2 linked regions of the Homo sapiens genome follow. The protein of the gene in region 1 purifies or fractionates together with the protein of each later gene. This does not show direct contact. Each region holds a gene or a part of one and is shown in the gene's direction. Other genes may lie near its edges.

What was found.
Region 2: the proteins of PAIP2B (region 1) and PABPC4 purify together in Homo sapiens (affinity purification with mass spectrometry; 2 studies listed by BioGRID and IntAct, with this or other methods). This does not show direct contact.

The regions. Positions count from the first base shown.
Region 1 is NC_000002.12:71,187,557-71,197,532, reverse strand, and holds part of PAIP2B (polyadenylate-binding protein-interacting protein 2B), read left to right. Parts: intron 1-7,511; coding exon 7,512-7,688; intron 7,689-8,997; coding exon 8,998-9,054; 3' UTR 9,055-9,976. UniProt on the Homo sapiens protein: Inhibits translation of capped and polyadenylated mRNAs by displacing PABPC1 from the poly(A) tail.
Region 2 is NC_000001.11:39,565,660-39,575,635, reverse strand, and holds part of PABPC4 (polyadenylate-binding protein 4), read left to right. Parts: intron 1-2,432; exon of another isoform or gene 2,433-2,555; intron 2,556-2,957; exon of another isoform or gene 2,958-3,049; coding exon 3,050-3,243; intron 3,244-4,286; coding exon 4,287-4,402; intron 4,403-5,012; exon of another isoform or gene 5,013-5,156; intron 5,157-5,633; coding exon 5,634-5,773; intron 5,774-5,946; coding exon 5,947-6,041; intron 6,042-6,696; coding exon 6,697-6,834; intron 6,835-7,789; coding exon 7,790-7,885; intron 7,886-8,125; exon of another isoform or gene 8,126-8,262; intron 8,263-9,976.

The DNA.
Region 1 (9,976 bases):
TACAGAGAACTCCTGCAAGATTCCACACAAGAAGATCATTCCCAAGACACATAATCATCAGACTTTCCAAGGTCAAAATGAAAGAATATTAAAGACAGCTAGAGAGAAAGGGTAGGTCACCTACAAAGAGATCCCTATCAGGCTAACAGCAGACCTCTTGGCTGAAACCCTATAAGCCAGAAGAGACTGGGGGACTATATTTAACATTCTTAGAGTAAAAAAATCTTCAACCAAGAATTTATATCCAGCCAAACTAAGTTTCTTAAATGAAGGAAAAATAAGATCCTTTTCAGATAAGCAAATGTTGAGGGACTTCATTACTACTAAACTTGCCTTACAGGAGACCTTGAAAAGAGCACTAAATATAGAAAGGAAAGACCACTACCAGCTAATACAAAAACCCACTTAACCACACAGACCAGTGTCACTGTAAAACAACCACACAAACAGGCCAACATAATAACCAGCAAACAGCACAATGACAGGATCAAATCCACACATATCAATACCAACATTGAATGTAAATGAGCTAAATGCCTCACTTAAAAGGCACAGAGTGGCAAGCTGGGTAAAAAAGCAAGACCCAATAGCATGCTGTCTTCAAGAAACCCATCTCACACATAATGACACTCATAGGCTCAAAATAAAGGGATGGAGAGAAATCTACCAAGCAAATGGAAAACAGAAAAAAGCAGGGGTTGCAATCCTAATTTCAGACAAAACAGATTTTAAACCAACAAAGATAAAAAAAGACAAGGGAAGGACATTACATAATGGTAAAGGGTTCAATTCAGCAAGAAGACCTAACTTTCCTAAATACATATGCACACAACATAGGAGCACCCAGATTCATAAAGCAAGTTCTTTATGAATCTGGGTGCAAAAAGACATAGACAGCCACATAATATTAATAATGTGAGACTTCTATACTCCACTGACAATATTAGATCATTGAAGCAGAAAATTAACTAAGATATACAGGACCTAAATTCACCATTGGAACAAATGGGTCTGCTAGACCTTTACAGAAGTCTCCACCCAAAAACAACAGAGTGTACATTAATCTCATTGCCACATGGTACACACTTTAAAATTGACCACATAATTGGACATAAAACAATCCTCAACAAGTGTAAAAGAACCGAAATCATACCAAACACACTCTTGGACCACAGCACAATAAAAATAGAAGTCAACACAATGAAAATAAAACCATACAATTACATGGAAATTAGACAACATACTCCTGAATGACTTTCAGGTAAATAATGAAATTGAGGCAGAAATCAAGTTATTTGAAAATAAGGAGAACAAAGATACAACATACCAGAATCTCTGGAACATAGCTAAGGCAGTGTTAAGAGGGAAATTCATAGCACTAAATGCCCACCTCACAAAGTGATAAAAGATCTCAAATTAACAACCTAACATCACAACTGAAAGAATTAGACAAGCAAGAGCAAATCAACCCCAAAGCTAGCAGAAGACGAGAAATAACAAAAATCAGAGATGAACTGAAGAAAACTGAGACATGAAAAACCATTTAAGAGATCAGCGAATCCAGGAGTTGGTTTTTTGAAAAAAGTTAATGAAATAGGCCAGGCGTGGTGGCTCATGCCTATAGTCCCAGCACTTAGGGAGGCTGAGGTGGGCAGATCACTTGAGGTCAGGAGTTTGAGACCAGCCTGGCCAACATGGTGAAACCCATCTCTACTAAAAATGCAAAAATTAGCCAGGCATGGTGGCATGTGCCTGTAATCCCAGCTGCATGGGAGGCTGAGGCAGGAGAATGCATGAACCCAGGAGGCAGATGTTGCAGGGAGCTGAGATTGCACCACTGCACTCCAGCCTGGGTGACAGAGCGAGACTTCATCTCAAGAAAAAAACTAATGAAATAGGCTAGTAGCTGCAGTAATTAAGAAGAAAATAGAGAAGATCCAAATAAACACAATTAGAAATGACAAAGGGAATGTTACTACTGACCCCACAGAAATAAAACAACCATCAAAAACTACTACAAGCACTACACACATGAACTAGAAAACCTAGGAGAAATGGATAAATTCCTGGACACATAAACCCTCCCAAGACTGAGCTAGGAAGAAATTGATTCCCTGAACTGACTAATAATGAGCTCTGAAATTGTATCAGTAATAAATAGCTTACCAACCAAAAAAGCCCAGGACATGATGGACTCACAGCCAAATTCTACCAGACATACAAAGAAGAGCTGGTACCATTCCTACAGAAACTATTCTAAAAAATTGAGGAGGAGGGATTTCTCCCCAACTCATTCTACAAGGCCAGCATCATCCTGATACCAAAACCTAGTAGAGACACAACAAAACAAGAAAACTTCAGGGAAATATCCTTGATGAACATTGAATCCTCAACAAAATACTTGCAAACCAAATCCAGCAGCACATCAAAAAGCTAATCCACAATGATTAAGTAGGCTTCATCCCCGGGATGCCAGGTTGGTTCAACATGCAAACATCAATAAATGTGATTCATCATGTAAACAGAATTAAAGATAAAAGCCACATGATTATCTCAATAGAAGCAGAAAAGTCTTTTGATAAAATTCAACATTGCTTCATGTTTAAAACTCTCAATAAACTAGGTATTGAAGGAATATACCTCAAAATAATAAGAGTCATCTATGACAAACCCACAGCCAACGTTATACTGAATGAGCCAAAGCTGGAAGCATTCCCCTTGAAAACCGGTACAAGACAAGGATGCCCTCTCTCACCACTTACATTCAACATAGTATTGGAAGTCCTAGCTGGAGCAATCAGGCAAGATAAAGGGCATCCAAATAGGAAGAGAGGAAGTCATACTATATCTGTTTGCAGACAACATGATTCTATATCTAGAAAACTCCGTAGTCTCAGCCCAAAAGCTCCTTTAGCTGATAAATAACTTCAGCAAAGTTGCAGAATACAAAATCAATGTACAAAAATCACTAGCATTCCTATACACCAACAACCACCAAACTGAGAGCCAAATCAGAAAGGCAATCCCATTCACAGTTGCCACACACACACACACACACACACACACACACACAACCTAGGAATACAGCTAACCAGGGAGGTAAAAGATCTCTACAATGAGAATTTCAAAACACTGCTCAAACAAATCAGAGAAGATGCAAACAAATGGAAAAACATCCCATGCTCATGGATAGGAAGAATCAATATCATTAAAATGGCTATACTGCCCAAAGCAGTTTACAGATTCAATGCTATTCCTATCAAACTACCAATGACATTCTTCACAAAACTAGAAAAAAATATTTCAAAATTTATATGGAACCTAAAAAGTGCACGAATAGCCAAGGCAATCATAAGTAAAAAGAACAAAGCTGAGGGCATCACGTTACCTGACTTCAAACTATACTGCAAGTCTACAGTGACCAAAATAGCATGGTACTGGTACAAAAGCAGGCACATAAACCAGTGGAACAGAACAGAGACCCCAGAAATGAGACCACACATCTACATCTGATCTTTGACAAAGCTGACAAAAACAAGCACTAGGGAAAAGACTCCCTGTTTAATAAATGGTGCTGGGATAACCGGCTAGCCATATGCAGAAGTTTGAAGCTGGACCCCTTCCTTACACCATATACAAAAATAAACTCAAGATGGATTAAAGACAAATGTAAAACCCAAAACTTTTTTTTTTTTTGGGACAGAGTCTTGCTCTGTAGCCCAGGCTGGAGTACTCACTGCAAGCTCCGCCTCCCGGATTCTCGCCATTCTCCTGCCTCAGCCTCCAGAGTAGCTGGGACTACAGGTGCCTGCCACCACACCCGGCTAATTTTTTGTATTATTTAGCAGAGAAGGGGTTTCACCGTGTTAGCCAGGATGGTCTCAGTCTACTAACCTCATGATCTGCCTGCCTCAGCCTCCTAAAGTGCTGGGATTACAGGCGGAGCCACTGCACCTGGCTAAAACCCAAAACTATAAAAACCCTGGAAGACAACCTAGGCAATACCATCCTGGACATAGGAATGGTCAAAGATTTAATGGCGAAGACACCAAAAGCAATTGCAACAAAAGCCAAAATTGACAAATGAGATCTAAATAACTTAAGAACTTCTGTACAGCAAAAGAAACTATCAACAGAGTAAACAGACAACCTACAGAAAGGGAGGAAATATTTGCATACTATGCATATGACAAAGGTCTGATATCAAGCATCTATAAGGAACTTAAATTTACAAGAGAAAAACAACCCCATTAAAAAGTGGGCAAAGGACATGAACAGACACCTCTCAAAAGGAAGACATACATACGGCCAACAAGCATATGAAAAAAAGCTCAATATCACTGATCATTAGAGAAATGCGAGTCAAAACCACCATGAGATACAATTTCACACCAGTCAGAATGGCTATGACTAAAAAGTAAAAAAAAAGAAAAAACACGTGCTGGTGAGGTTGTGGAGAAAAGGGAAGGCTTATACAATGTTGGTAGGAGTGTAAATTACTTCAGCCATTGTGGAAAGCAGTATGGCGATTCCTCAAAGAGCTAAAACTACAATTCAACCCAGCAATCCCATTACTGGTTGTAGACCCAGAGGAATGTAAAGCATTCTACCATAAAGACACATGTACACAAATGTTCATTGCAGCACTGTTCACAATAGCAAAGACATGGAATCAACTAAATGCCCATTTATCAGTGACAGACTGGATAAAGAAAATGTGGTACATATACACCATGGAATATTACGCAGCCATAAAAAATAATGAGATTATGTCCTTTGCAGGAACATGGATGGAGTTGCAGGCTATCATCCTTAGCAAACTAACACAGGAACAGGAAACCAAACACTACATGTTCTCACTTATAAGTAGGAGCTAAATGATAAGAATTTATGAACACAAGGAACAACAGACACTGGGGTCTACTTGACGGGGGTGGGTGGGAGGAGAGAGAGGAGCAGAATAGGTAACTATTGGGTACTGAGCTTAATACCTGGTGATATGATAATATGTACAACAAACCCCTGTGACATGTGTTTATGTAACCTTCACGTGTACTTCAAACCTAAAATTAAAAAAAAAGTAACATCAAAGATTACTGATTACAGAGCACTATAACAGATATAATAATAATGAAAAAGTTTGAAAAATTGAGAGAATTACCAAAATGTGACACAGACATTGAGCACATGCTGTTGATAAAAAGGCGCCAATAGGCTTGCTTGATGCAAGGTTGCCACAAACCTTCAATTTGTAAAAAAAAAAAAAAAAATGCAGTATCTATGAAGCAAAATACAGCAAAATGCAATAAAACGTGTGCCCATATATAATATTTTTCATTAATCATATGTGGTTAAGTCCAGTTCCTAAAAATCTAGTTTCTGCTCTCCTTTTGCAGTGTTTTCATGGAAAATTTGTGTTAATGGGAAAAGGTGAGGAAATTTATTTTATGAAAGGAAGTTGTTTTGGTCTAATGCCCTGTGTTATTGGGTGTAGATTTGTGGGAAACAGCAGCTATATGCAGACAGGTCAGCATGGCATGCCTCAAATGGGAACTCGGGATTGGCAGGATGTGAGTCTGAAATAGAGAAGTACATGAGGTGAGGGTTGGCTAGACTACTTCAGCAAAGATTCAGCAGTAACGCATTGTTTTATATCTGTGAGGTTAACAGTCCAAGGTAAGCATTCTGGATAGACAAGTGATCTGGTGCCCACTTGGTCCCTTCCACGGTATTGCTCTGCCACCCCCAGGGCATATATCAGCTGCGTGGCTGAGGGAAAACTGGGAAGTCCAGCAGCTGGGAAAGGGAGAGCACCAAAGGCCATGGCAAGGGGTCTTCTTTTAACCAAGGGATGCCAAAGTGTCCATGTCCCTTGTGGGAACATTTTGTGATGAATAGTCACTTGGCCATATACAGCATGTAAGGTGACAAATGTGATTTTAACTGAACAGCCTGGTGCTCTGGGAAGAAGGAAACAAGTTTAAAGGGGACAGACAGCAATTTCCACCTAATGTGGCTCTGTCGGGATCTGTGTGAATTGCACGTAGCATGTTTCTGTTACACCTCTGTGCCCAGCAACCATTTTCATTGGTTGTGCCAGTGAACAGGGGTAAATTTAATAAGAGCTAGCATGCTGTTATGCTCTCATAGAGTCAGGGCAGCTCTCAAATGGTCATGTTACATCTTGTGGCATGAGAATATTTTATTAAGCACTTCATAACTGTCTAGTTTTCACGTGTGGCTAATTGTAGTGTTCAAATACTATTCTTAAGTCTCACTACCAGTAACTTTTCCTCTGAATTAATTAGGTAACTGTATATTCCAATTTGGGAAATTATTTTTTGCTTGACCTCATTTCTGGTGGTGGTGCTAGTGAGCTGTGAATCTGTCACCAGGCAGCCTGCAGGAAAGGGATGCCAAACATGAAGCAAGAGGCCTATCAAAGACACTGAAATCTGCAGAGTGAACCACACTCTATACTAAGAGTTAACAATGTCTGCAAAGCAGTGTAAAATATCCTAGATATATATTGCTTTAGTTTAGGGCAATGTTTAAGAAATGCAGAATTGTTTGAATATTCATATATTTCATCTTTTGAAAGAATACTACATTGATTATGTAATTTTCTATTGGTATGCCAAAAAGTGTTCTTTATGTCTTCCTAATGTTCTGAAAGTATTTTTCTCCCTTGAGGGTTTCCTTACCCAAAAAATGGCCAGAAGCTGAGAGCATTGGCTTTGATTTTATCTCCACTAGCCAGGTCATGAACTAGTTATATACTTGCAGTATCTTTTTCATATTTCTTATAAAATGGGAAATTTAAGAAGGGTTACTTTGTAACAAGACTGAGAAAAGAATTTTAGGCTCTAAAATGATTTTCCATGATATCTGTATCACCTATTAGAGATCGTAGAACATCTGCGGAGACCTTGAATTTCTGTTACTGTGAATAACTATTTTCTTAGTCTTATTAGTGATAGAATTTGGTTGAGAAAAAATAAAAATTATGCTATCTCTAGCTAGTCATTAGGCGCATTGAATCCTTAGATCCCTTGGACCTCATGTAAGATCATAAAATCTTTTTTTTAAATATATTTTTATTTTTTAAAGAATCGGGGTCTCATTCTGTCGCCCAGACTGAAGTGCAGTGGCGCAGTCTTGGCTCAATGAAGCCTTGACCTCCTGCATTCAAGTTGTCCTCCAGCCTCAGTCTCCCAAGTAGCTGAGACTACAGGCACACACCACTATGGCCTGGCTAATTTTAAAATTTTTTTTGTAGAGGCAGGGTCATGCTATGTTGCTCAGGCTGGTCTCAAACCTCCTGGCCTCAAGCAATCCTCCTGCCTCAGTCTCCCAAACTGCTGGGATTACAGTTGTGAGCCACCACACCCAGCTCAAGATCATTCTTAATTGCAGAGTAATACCTTCTGAAGGAAAGAGGTGGAGGAAAAACTGGAAGGGGTAAGTCTTGCTGTGACAGTAAGTCTGAGCTGCTCCCCTTTGCTTGCTAGGTGGAGGAGGAACTGCAGGAGCAAGACTTCTTGGACCGCTGCTTCCAAGAGATGCTGGATGAAGAAGACCAAGACTGGTTTATTCCCTCACGAGACCTGCCTCAGGCCATGGGACAGTTGCAACAGCAGTTAAATGGACTGTCAGTCAGTGAAGGTCATGATTCTGAAGATATTTTGGTAAGAGCCATATGTAGTTCCCCAGGTTATGTAGTGAAAAGAATATAGGATTTGGAATGACAGACTTTCTTTCCAGCCCTACAACCCTCAACAAGTCTGGAGCCCTGTGAGCTGTTGTTTCTTTGCTCGTTTTATGGGCATTATTAATAAGGGGTGCATTAAAGATGCATTGCTCCTCATAAAGCACTATAAAACATTACTGTTGCCAGCATCACGGGCTTTTTACTTGCCAAGATTGGACGCCACCAACCTTTACTTTCTAATGGGCTCTTCAAAGTAGAATTGGGATTAAGGATAACAATTTGAACACTGAAGAAGTTTCTTCTCAAATATCATTTGTTGCTATTCTTCTCTTTTACTGTCCCTCAAATCTGTATTTAATATACTTCTAAATGATTCTGTTATAAAAATTAGCTGTTCATTTTGGAAGAAATGTACTCCTGAGAGGTCATTTTCTCCACTTAGAATTAGAAAACCAGATAAATTAATTTCCTGCCTTTCATATTTATGTAACATCAGAAGTCTGTGAGCAGGCTGGGCACGGTGGCTCACGCCTGTAATCCCAGCACTTTGGGAGGCTGAGGCGGGTGGATCACCTGAGGTCTGGAGTTCAAGACCAGCCTGGCCAACATGGAAACCCCATATCTACTAAAAAAATACAAAAATTAGCCAGGCATGGTGGTGCGCGCCTGTAGTCCCAGCTTGGAAGGCTAAAGCAGGAGAATTGCTTGAACCTGGGAGGCAGAGGGAGGCGGAGTTTGCAGTGAGCCAAGATTGCACCACTGCACTCCAGCCTGGGCAACAGAGCAAGACTGTCTCAAAAAAAAAAAAAAAAAAAAAGTCTGTGAGCAATATAGTTTTCATACAACTCATATTCTGAACAATCTTGCCCTGTGGTTTGCTAAGGTTTTGGATATTCACAAGAGAGTAGAGAACCAAAGAGAGTACAGAAAGATGAAGAAAAATAGAGATTGTGGTATCCAGCCTGGTCTGATGGAGTACCCTGGTTTTCACCAAGTTAAGGTACTCAGTGAATTGAAAAATTATTCTTGGAGTTGAACTTACAGGCCTCTGATGAGATTTTGGAAAGCATCAGGAAGGAAACAAGAGTCCAAAGAAGGAAGGAGAAGATGAGCTTGCTCAGGGCTATGTCAGGTGCAGTTGAGATAACCTAGCAATAACAGCCTGAGTTACAAGGAATTTTCTTTCTCTCCCTAAAGCTAAGGGGAAGGTACTGATAATGATGGACTGGGTAAGTTTTAAAATGCAGCTTGCCTTAGGATTTACTATCTCTTGGTTCTTATTTCAGAGCAAAAGTAACCTGAACCCAGATGCCAAGGAGTTTATTCCAGGAGAGAAGTACTGAGCCGAGAAAGCTTTGAGGAAGACTTGTCTGTCCCCACATCTGGGGATAGTAATGCACAAAATGGTGGAGCTGAAGAGGGGGATGGGGCGGGCGAGGGGTGCACAGCGGGAAGGGGAGTGGTGGTCTCACAATACTGTGACTCTGAGTAACTAATATGCTCAGTCTTATTCTAAGCCTCTGAGTATTTCTATTTTGTTCTGCTGACTTTTGTTTGGGGAGTTTCCTGTTTTGTTTTTTTAAATAGCTCTTTCGAGTTAAGGAAATTGCATTTTCCCCCCTTCATCAGAAGTGTTCCGCGGTGTGTATTTAAACAAAATAAGCTGACTAAGAAAAACTGGATATTTAGGAAATGCCCCTCTCACCCTGCTGTATACTTATCAGGGACAGTGAGCACCTGGAGAGCTTTTTGTGGAATCTATTGAGTTGGATGGGAAAAGGGACAAGCAGAAAGAGCAGGTGGTGCAAACTGGAATTTGAGGCTCAGCTGCCCCACCCCCGGGGTCTCCTGCAATGAACTCGGATAACCAATGTGCTGTCAAGCCCTTGCCTGTTTGTCCTGAACCCCATTCAAGAAAACACAGACTTAAAGTACTTAGTTTACAGTAACTTTTGATGATTGTTGAAAGTTGTAAATCAGAAGGTAGGGCTGTGATGGTGGTTGTCACTTGAGTCATTTAGTTACTGTTGTCCTGTTCATAAGCCTGTGTTCACCACCACCATCAGACTCACCATTTATAAGTAGAAGAGCACTAGGGTTGATCTGCCACCTCATCTTTCATGAAGTCTATTCCCCAGCCTCCTTTTTAAGAAAAGATACTGCTACCAAAGGCATAGGGGAGGCCTGCTGTGCTGGCAATTAGCATGAGCCTGCAGAAGTCATCCTTGAATCTGTTGTGTCTTAATTTTATTTGGACAGTTTTTT
Region 2 (9,976 bases), on another chromosome or scaffold:
CAGGGTGCGGAGATTGAGAACGCGGACCTGGCATCAGATGACTCGAGTTTCAATCTTGTTTCTACCACTTGCTAACTGGGTGACCTTGGGCTACTTATTAGTGTTGCTGGTAGTGGGGTTGGAAACCAAGGAGACTGTAAAACAGGATTAGAGTGAAGCCACTGGCATTCCACTGCGTGTGGTCCTTGTCAGTGGGGCTGGGCTGTTAGAGATCCTTGCTTGTGCCCCTCACAGGCTGGCCAAAAAGGCGGGACGTTTGAAACACAATTCCCCGCGAAAGTTTTACATTGTAAAGCTCCTGCCCGCTCCGCCACCTTTACTAACCTTGACTACCTGATGTTGTGCTGATAAAGGATCAGTCAGGGCAGGCAGGAAGCAGGGGGAAGGTTTCTGTGCGTTAAACTTTCGCAGAGACTTAGGTTAGTGCCACAAAAGCTGCGTGTGCCAGGCCACCTCCTTGGTCTGTGTGTTTGCCACTGGAGTGGAGAAGTGCTTTACTCTGGACAAATGGTATCCAGGCTCTGTGCTGTAGAGTGTCGTGGAGGTAGTTTAGGGAAGCGTCACTTGAAAATCTGGTGTCATTTGTCACCTCAGCTGTAACAGTGCTTTGCACTAGTCAGAGCCCTTTTATTTCATCTAATCTGAAGAAAATGGGACTCCTGAGAAGGAGAACGAATGCAAAAAGTTGGAAGCCAAGTTAGGACTCCCAGCACAGTGCTCTGCCACCTCAGATTGTGGCCTTAGCGTGGAGCATGGAGAGAGGTATGCTGCAGGCGTGGCAGGAGGGAGGCCAGAGGAAACCTGATCAGAGGCTGCACGTGACTCCAGATTAAAAGGGAACAACTGCAGAGATCATTACTGGGAGAAACAAGCCATTCTATGGCAAAGCATCTCCAGGTCCCTAGTTTTGGGGTCCCCCCTTTGTTTTCTGTCTGAGGCCCAGAGTTACTACCTGCCCAGGTTGCGGCTGAGACCAGAGAATTGGACATGTTGAGAGGGACTAGGTATTGCTACTGTCAATCCAGTGTGCTCCAAGCTGAGTTCTGTCCATGGCCATAGGAGCGCAAAGGTAGCTGAGTGTGGTCTTTTTAAGGGATAATGTACCACATTAGCTGTTGTCTGCCTTACTGACTTTTGAACAAAAGTCGTGTCACTTAGAGATAGCAGAAGCTATTGGTCAGTGTGTCTGCCAACACATACTTCTGCAGGACTTCTCCCTGCTATAAATAAGTGCAGCCAGATTTGTCAGACTAAGCCGGCTTGCCTTGTGCAGTGCTGTCTGGAAATAGACGAGGAGCTGTTGTTGAAGTGGGCTCCTTTACTGCTAATTAATGAAATAGTTTGCGATCCCAGCTATCTATCTCTGATAGCCATCACAAGCAAAGTCCTCTTTCCCTGGACTGTTCCTGACTTGGATCGGTCTTGTCATCTCCCCTTTTCCCAACTACCCCCCACACAGATGAGGCCCACCTTCTGAAGGGGGTGGGGAAAGTTGTTGGAAATAATGAGTGAAAATAAATTCTCCCGGCTAATGAAACAGTTGAGCTTGTGGAGCGGCAGAGTTGGGGAATTTTGTCCCCCCTTTAAGTGAGATGTTGTCCTGAGGCAAGGAGCAGGTTCCACTGCTCTGACCCTGTCTAAATCCCCTCATGGAGGAGGTTCTGGGTGATGTCACCGTTAGGAGATGCCATCATAGCCTTAAGGAAAAGTGGCCACCAGATCTGGGCATCCTTGTTGCGATTAGTGATGAGAAGTGTTTTGGCTGGCAGGTGGTGTTATTTTTTAGCTTTTGGTTCTTTTTGTTGTTGTTTGTTTTGAGACACTGTTTCACTCTTGCTGCCCAGGCTGGAGTGCAATGGCGCGATCTCAGCTCACTGCAACCTCTGACTCCTGGGTCCAAACAATTTTCCTGCCTCAGTCTCCTGAGTAGCTGGGATTACAGGCACCCGCCACCATGCCCAGCTAATTGTGTATTTTTAGTAGAGATGGGGTTTTCACCATGTTGGTCAGGCTGGTCTCGAACTCCTGACCTCAGGTAATCCACCCGCCTTGGCCTCCCAAAGTGCTGGGATTACAGGAGTGAGCCACCATACCCAGCCCAGCCTTTGGTTCTTTAAATTGTCTCTGGTGTACACACGGACTTGGTTGGGAAGCTAAGGAAGCATTCCAAGGTGTTGGATGGGGAAGTTGGTTGAGCACCCAGGGTAGCTGAAGTCCTAGAATTCTACAGAACTTCCATTAAGGCTTCAAAAGGTGGGTGCAGGGCCTGCCATCTGCGCACTGTCTACTTAGGCAGAAGGTATGGTGGTTTTATCCTTGTGATAGTACAGAGAACTTTTCCATGTGTGATCAGTTGTGTCCATTTTGATGACTGATGCTTTTTTGTTTAAGTCAATTTCTGTTCTCAGAAATTGAAAATAAACTGGACTGAATTCTGAATTCAGGGATAGCACCTTTTTTTTTTTTTCCAGATCATTTGCTTTACAGGTTTTGTCACTTGTCTCCATAGGTGGATTGCAGACTAAATGACTTGATAACTTTGATGCAATACCTCACTGAAAAATAAATCAGATAATCTAGTATTAGTTTCGTAATTACTAGCTAGCTGCACAGCTTAGTTACCCTAAACATAAGTTTGTTCATTTTGTAAAATGTATAATTTCAGCTGTCCCACCTGAGTCATGGTGGGTGGTAGTCTGCAAAGTCTCTTCTAAGTGGTAAAGCTTAGTCAAATGTGAGGTATTATCACTGGATCTTGGTGTCATTAAGGCCATTTAGATTATCTTTACTTGTGGCCCCTTTATCCAACAAGGGCACAGACCCAGAAGGGTGTTTAGACTTCTGTCATGAAGTAGAGTCATTAGCTGGAACTTATGCTTCCCTTACTAACAGTGCAGGCTGGAGGAATCTGATGCCCTTTTATTTTAATAGAGTTGCCTTTTATCAAGAGTGATTACCTTGAAAAGTCCTGGAGTAATCTGTTCTTAGGCTGTTGGCCTGTGGGAGCTGACGTTTTCTCTCCTTATTGAAATGTGTTTCTCTCTTACAGCTGAGCGGGCTTTGGACACCATGAACTTTGATGTGATTAAGGGAAAGCCAATCCGCATCATGTGGTCTCAGAGGGATCCCTCTTTGAGAAAATCTGGTGTGGGAAACGTCTTCATCAAGAACCTGGACAAATCTATAGATAACAAGGCACTTTATGATACTTTTTCTGCTTTTGGAAACATACTGTCCTGCAAGGTAAACATTGATTAAATGATTTTAGCAGAATAATTAATTGATTCTTGAAAACAAGATAAATACCAAACAGAGAACTATCTTGGAATTGGGGAACAAGATATGGGAATTTTCAAAATGCTGGACATGGAATCCTAAAAGTTCCCATAGGTAATCTCAGGGCCATACCCAGCGTAACCAGCACACGCTTTCATACCCTTGTTCTTTACTCAGCCTGAAATATCCTTCCTATTCTTTAGCTTTGGAAAGCCCACGTTTTTCTTTTGGGATGGGGGAAAGTAGAGGACCAGAGAAGTGTCTCTAGTCTTGAGGAAACTTAATCACTTTAGAAGCATAAATTCACTCTATTCCTTCTACGTATCTGTTCTATGCTGAGCACTTTAAAACTTAAACGGTGGTGGTGTATATGTTTAATGCCATACTACACTGAAAATCTGTTGTGGCCTTGGAAAATGTTTTGTTTTCTGCATCACCGTGGTTTGCACCCAGATCTCTTAAAATGTGTTGTTGTGTTTTAAAGAGACAGAGTCTTGCTCTGTCTGTCACCCAGGGTGGAGTGCAGTGGTCTAGTAATAGCTCATTGTAGCTTCGACCTCCTGGGCTCAAGCCATCCTCCCACCTCAGCCTCCCAAGTAGCTGGAACTACAGGCACGTGCCACCACACTCATTTAATTTTTTTCTTTTTTGTAGAGACAGGGTCTCCATTGTCCAACGATCTGGCTCCAACGATCCTCCTGCTTTGGCCTCCCAAAGCATTGGGATTACAGGCATGAGCCACAGCACCCAATTTTAAGTATTTTTTGTTTGTTTGTTTTTGATAAAAATAAAACATTTGGAATAGAAGCATCTTAGTAGGGCTACCTTTGTAAATGGAACACTTACTAGGCACCTGGTGCTGTGCTAGGTGTTAGAAAAATTATACTGGTGTACTTGACCACCATTGGCCATGGATGGGCTAGAGTCTCCTCAGGCACAAGATACCCTGAGGTTCTCATGTCTCAGGAGCTGGCCAGTTCTGCTAAAGTGGTCCGCCTTGTCTTTGACAGGTGGTGTGTGATGAGAACGGCTCTAAGGGTTATGCCTTTGTCCACTTCGAGACCCAAGAGGCTGCCGACAAGGCCATCGAGAAGATGAATGGCATGCTCCTCAATGACCGCAAAGTGTGAGTGTCCCAGTCCGGAGCAACAACCATCGCATGAGCCAGCCGTGGCCCCACCTCGCTATTAACTGGCACACACAAGGCGGCTACTGGTTCTCGGCCCAAGTGTGGCCTGCTCCTACCTCTCCACTCCAGGGCTGGTGAGTCTCCCTGCCTGAGCCGTGGCAGCCCTTTTGACTCGCCAAGGTGGGCTTCCTGCCCAAGCCATGGCCTGCCTGCCGCCTCTCCCTTAAAGGCATCTGTCTGTGGGTTTTGTGAGCATCAACAACTGGGGCTGGCTGGAAAGCAGCTCTAAGCTCACTCTGAGTCGGGGTCTTGGCCAGCGGCAGAGTGGAGAGGGCCCTGGACTGACCAGGAGCTGTATACTAGCAGTGTGACCTTGGCTTTCCTGTGATTCAGGTCTGTCCATGGGTCCCTCGCTAGTGGTTGATGCCAAATTGTCCCCGCGGTTCTCCATTTTCTAACTTATGACTCAGTGACCTAATACAAGGCTGGCTCCACAGTAATACTTGGTGACAATGAAAAAATCCCATCCCTTTGCAGAAAAACTTCATAACAGACCTTGTTGCTTTGATGTGGTTGTTACTGTAGAATGCAGAGAGGGGGAACTTACCAAAGCCATATGGGGAGAAGAAGAGACAATAAGTCTTGGCTATTACAAGCCAAAATAATTTTTGTCCTTTGTGTCATTCAGTATGCCAGAGGATGGGTTATCTTTATAATGTCTGTGTGTGCAGTGGTTGATCTACAGATATCACTAAAAAGAAATACAAAAATGTCAGTGCATGGATAAATTTTCTTTTAAGTATAACAGACCAAAATAAATAAATTTAAAAAGCAAAGGGTGCCCCTTCACTCCAACAATCTCATATCTAGGATTAACCACTGTTAACAGTTTGGTTTGTATCCTTCCAGACCTTTTCTATGCATTTACATAGTTGCACAGAAATGAACATTTTAAAAACATGGCCATCAGGTTTCTTCATGAAGGCAGTGTGATGTGGTAGGAATAGCCCTGGTCTAAGCCAGGAGCCCTGGGGCTGGTCCTCACAGGATAGTCCTGCCTTTTTCTCTTTCTGCTGGGGACTTGGGGTATCTCTGAGCCTCCTTGGTGGTGGATGGGGATCTCGTGTTTTAACCTCTCCTGTCAGTCTTTAACCTGTATTCCTTTGGGTCCCTGGACATCATGTTTTATTCCTCTGGGTAATTACTGTTCTTCATGGTTTCATTTTAGATTTGTGGGCAGATTCAAGTCTCGCAAAGAGCGGGAAGCTGAGCTTGGAGCCAAAGCCAAGGAATTCACCAATGTTTATATCAAAAACTTTGGGGAAGAGGTGGATGATGAGAGTCTGAAAGAGCTATTCAGTCAGTTTGGTAAGTTGGGGTTCCTTGTCTCCTTTCACAGTCTACCAGACCCATCTGTTTTTTCTTAAGAGATGAGGGCACTGCTCCAGAGATTTGCTTCAAGTGAGTTTCCAGAGGGAAGCCTTCTGTTCCTGAGCTGTGCTCAAGATGGTGTTACTAATAGTTCTGTCCTTTGGTAATAGGTAAGACCCTAAGTGTCAAGGTGATGAGAGATCCCAATGGGAAATCCAAAGGCTTTGGCTTTGTGAGTTACGAAAAACACGAGGATGCCAATAAGGTGAGTATACCACAAAGATTGGGAAAAGCTTTTAAGAGGTTGCCCCAGAGTATGGGTAGGGTCTTGCTAGCACCTACCTAGAGCTGGGACGGTCTGAGTATCTGGTAGTAGATGTACCATTACTATACTCTGGGATCATCTTCCTGGGTTCCGCATGTTAACTTCATGTAGGTGTTTACAAAGCACTTGGCACATACCTGTCACCTCAGCTATCAGTTGTTGAAAGAATAGGACAGACGTTTGTTATGCTGCAAAGGTGAGAGAACTAAAGCCCAGTGAGTGCTGATTTGATAACAGCACGGCAGCTACTTGTGGGCAAAGCATTGTGCCAGACCCTCAATATTTATCACTTAAATACCCACAAAAGCACCTGCAGAATTTACTGGCAGCCGGAATATTATATCGCCCTAGGCTCATGTCAGCACACTTGTGTTTATACACCTGTACTATTTCTATATTATCTGGATCAATAACCCATTTAAATATTAACCTCACTTTACAGATGAGGAAGTTTGGATTTGTGTGACAGACTTCAGAGGTGGAGTGAATTTAGTTTTTAGTCCTATAGTAGAAAGAATATTTTTTGGGACTTAGACCTCCAGAATAAGACCCCATCGCTGCAACTTTATTTTAAAGACATATTTTTCCTCTCTAGGCTGTGGAAGAGATGAATGGAAAAGAAATAAGTGGTAAAATCATATTTGTAGGCCGTGCACAAAAGAAAGTAGAACGGCAGGCAGAGTTAAAACGGAAATTTGAACAGTTGAAACAGGAGAGAATTAGTCGATATCAGGTAAGGTGGTCTTGGCCCAGCCTAGCAATGGGATTTGCTGTGAAATATTTGCAGAACACCCCTATGTTTAGCGGGCTTTCTTTTTGAGGACTTGGAGTGTGTTCTTCTTCCCATTTTACCTAAAAAGATGAGGTTTAAAAGGATATATACCTACTACATATGACTGATTATTATAGAACCAGAAACAAGAGATGGGTTTATTCATCAAGAAGCTCTCTATTTTGGAAGCCTCAGCCTGTTGCTTTTAGCCATGTAGGTTCCTTTTACTTAAATGAGACTCCTTTGTTTGGCATGGCTTCAAGAAGACCCCTGCTGGGGTGGGTGAGTGGTCACCAGAACAGCTGTGGGGAGAGGTGACAAAAGGTGAGTGCACTGATGATCCTGTCAGTTTCAGGGCAGTAGTTTCACAACTTTGGACTTGCATCAGATTCATCAGCAGAGCTTGTTAAAACAGATAGCTGGGCTCCAGCCCCAGAGTTTTTCTTATTCATTGGGTTTGGGGTCTGGCCTAAGAATTTCATTTCTTTCTTTTTTTTTTTTTTTTCTTGAGACAGTCTCGCTCTGTCGCCCAGGTTGGAGTGCAGTGGCACAATCTCGGCTCACTGCAAACTCCGCCTCCCGGGTTCGCACCATTCTCCTGCCTTAGCCTCCTGAGTAGCTGGGACTACAGGCACCCGCCACCATGCCTGGCTAATTTTTTGTATTTTTAGTAGAGACGGGGTTTCACTGTGTTAGCCAGGATGGTCTCGATCTCCTGACCTTGTGATTCGCCCGCCTCGGCCTCCCAAAGTGCTGGGATTACAGGCGTGAGCCACCGCGTCCGGCCGAGAATTTCATTTCTAACAAGTTCCCAAAGATGCTGGTGCTCCTGGTCTGGGGCCACCCTTGGGGAACCACTTTCTTAGGGAATATTTGTGATATAGAAGTGTAGTTAACAGTGATCTTTTTCCTTCAGGGGGTGAATCTCTACATTAAGAACTTGGATGACACTATTGATGATGAGAAATTAAGGAAAGAATTTTCTCCTTTTGGATCAATTACCAGTGCTAAGGTATTATACTGCGATCTGGGGATTGAAAGCAGTGGTATTCCATTATAGGCTTATTGGCATTTGTCCCATTGAAGGAATAGCATTTAAATTATGTTCATTTCTGAAAGTAGCTACTACGTTTTTCTAGCAAAATTTCTGGATGCATTCTGGAGAATGACATTTCATTAGGTTAACATTACACTGTTTCCCAAGCACTGGAGTCTGGAGAGGAATTTGACCCAGCCCCTCCTTGCCAACTCAGAGCACCTGAATCTTTCCCATTCCTTGCTGCCTCGTGCCGGTGTGGGGACAGATGGTGCTACAGAATGAGCAGAGGAAATCCAGACAGGTTGTTTTCCATTTGTCTTGGGGCCTGTCTCTACAGCTCTGCCACATTTTCTCCTTGAGAATGAAGGTATTTTGAAGATTTTGGAGGTGGGCTTGGGAACTTCTACCCTGGTCTTAAAAAGAGAGGAAAGGGGAGTGGAAGGTTTTTCTATGTTTCGTAGTGTGCATCATTTGCTTGATTTTCTTTGATAATCATATCAACTAAGTTAGCAGGGTAAGTAGGAACCTCATTTTAAAGATAAGGAATTTTAGTCCTTGAACAAGAGAATGCTGACTACATGGGGATGGTGTACTGCTTGTCCTTGGCACTTTGGGAGCAGGATGGAAACTGGTGCCATCTGAACATTTTGAGTTATGGCCGGATGCAGACGCCGGTCTTGCTAAACAGGTGTACCAGATGCCACAAAATCCTTTAGTTGATGAGAAGGGAAGCCACGTGGGCTGGTAAGGGCTTAGTGGCCCTGCCCTGGCTCTTAGTGGACTTTGCTCCCAACCTGGGAATGTGGAAAGCAATGTTATCAGTTGTAGTAGGGAGTTGGCCAGAGGCCAACTGTGGGTTTGCCCAGTTCTTACCCTTTCGTTTTTGCTATGACCCCCCCCTTGACTGGCCCTCATCAGTGTAAGGAGTGATCTTCTATCCTTGCTTATCTGCCTAGTAGTCAAGTTGGCATTTGTTAAGAGAGCAGAAGAGCCATACCTTGAATTGTCCCCATTTTCATTATGATGGTGTGGCATTTTTATTCACATACCTTACTGGCCCATCTCATTGGTAGAGAGTTATGGAGTGATGCACTTCTTTACTTCCCTATCCTCCACTTCAGGAGGCTCTCTGGGCCATTAACTAAGACATAAAACAATGACAGTCACACCAGAGAAGACAGTGAATAACCTTGTCTATTAGGAAGAATGCCATTTGTGAATGATGAACTTAATGTGGGAAAAGACTGCCTGAACCAGTAGACCTGTGGTTTTGTAGCTGTTTGGAGTATTTCTTGGAAATTGAGCCTCAGGAAGGCAAGTGAGACTAGAATCTAGGCTGCCTATCTCTGAGCTGGTCATCTCATTGAATTAATGGTGGCAGTCATTGGTTACCTGAACATTTTAGGACTCCTGTCCACACGTGGTATTCCAAAAGTGTTATCCTGACGTTGGTAAGAGCTTGTTAGAGTTTGTCCACCGAGGTCTTGAAGCATATGAGATATGAAAATAAATTGCTCAGTACTACTCTCAAGATGTTTTGTGGTTACCCGGAGTAGCTATCCACCAGGTATCAGGAAACATCTTTGAGTTCCTGGTTTTATTATTAGCCATATCATAGTGTTTCAGAACTTTAGCATCACCTGGGGACTCAAAGAAAACACCTAGATACCTTAGAGGTTGTGACTTAGTTGGTCTGGGGTAAATCCTGTGCCAGAACCCTGACCTAGACTCAGTGACTGCAGCAGAACCCAGGCTTTCTGGTTCTTCTGAATAGTTCCCTCCCCACCCAGGGACATCCTTTTTTTTCCTATTTGTAGGTTTGTTTTGTTTTTTTTGTTGGTTTGGTTGGTTGGTGTTTTTGTTTTGTTTTGTTTTGTTTTGTTTTGTTTTGTTTTGGAGATGGAGTCTCGCTCTGTCGCCCAGGCTGGAGTGCAGTGGCGCGATCTCGGCTCACTGCAATCTCTGTCTCCCGGGTTGAAGCGGTTCTCCTGCCTCAGCCTCCTGAGTAGCTAGGATTACAGGTGTGTGCCACCACGCCCAGCTGATTTTTGTATTTTTAGTAGA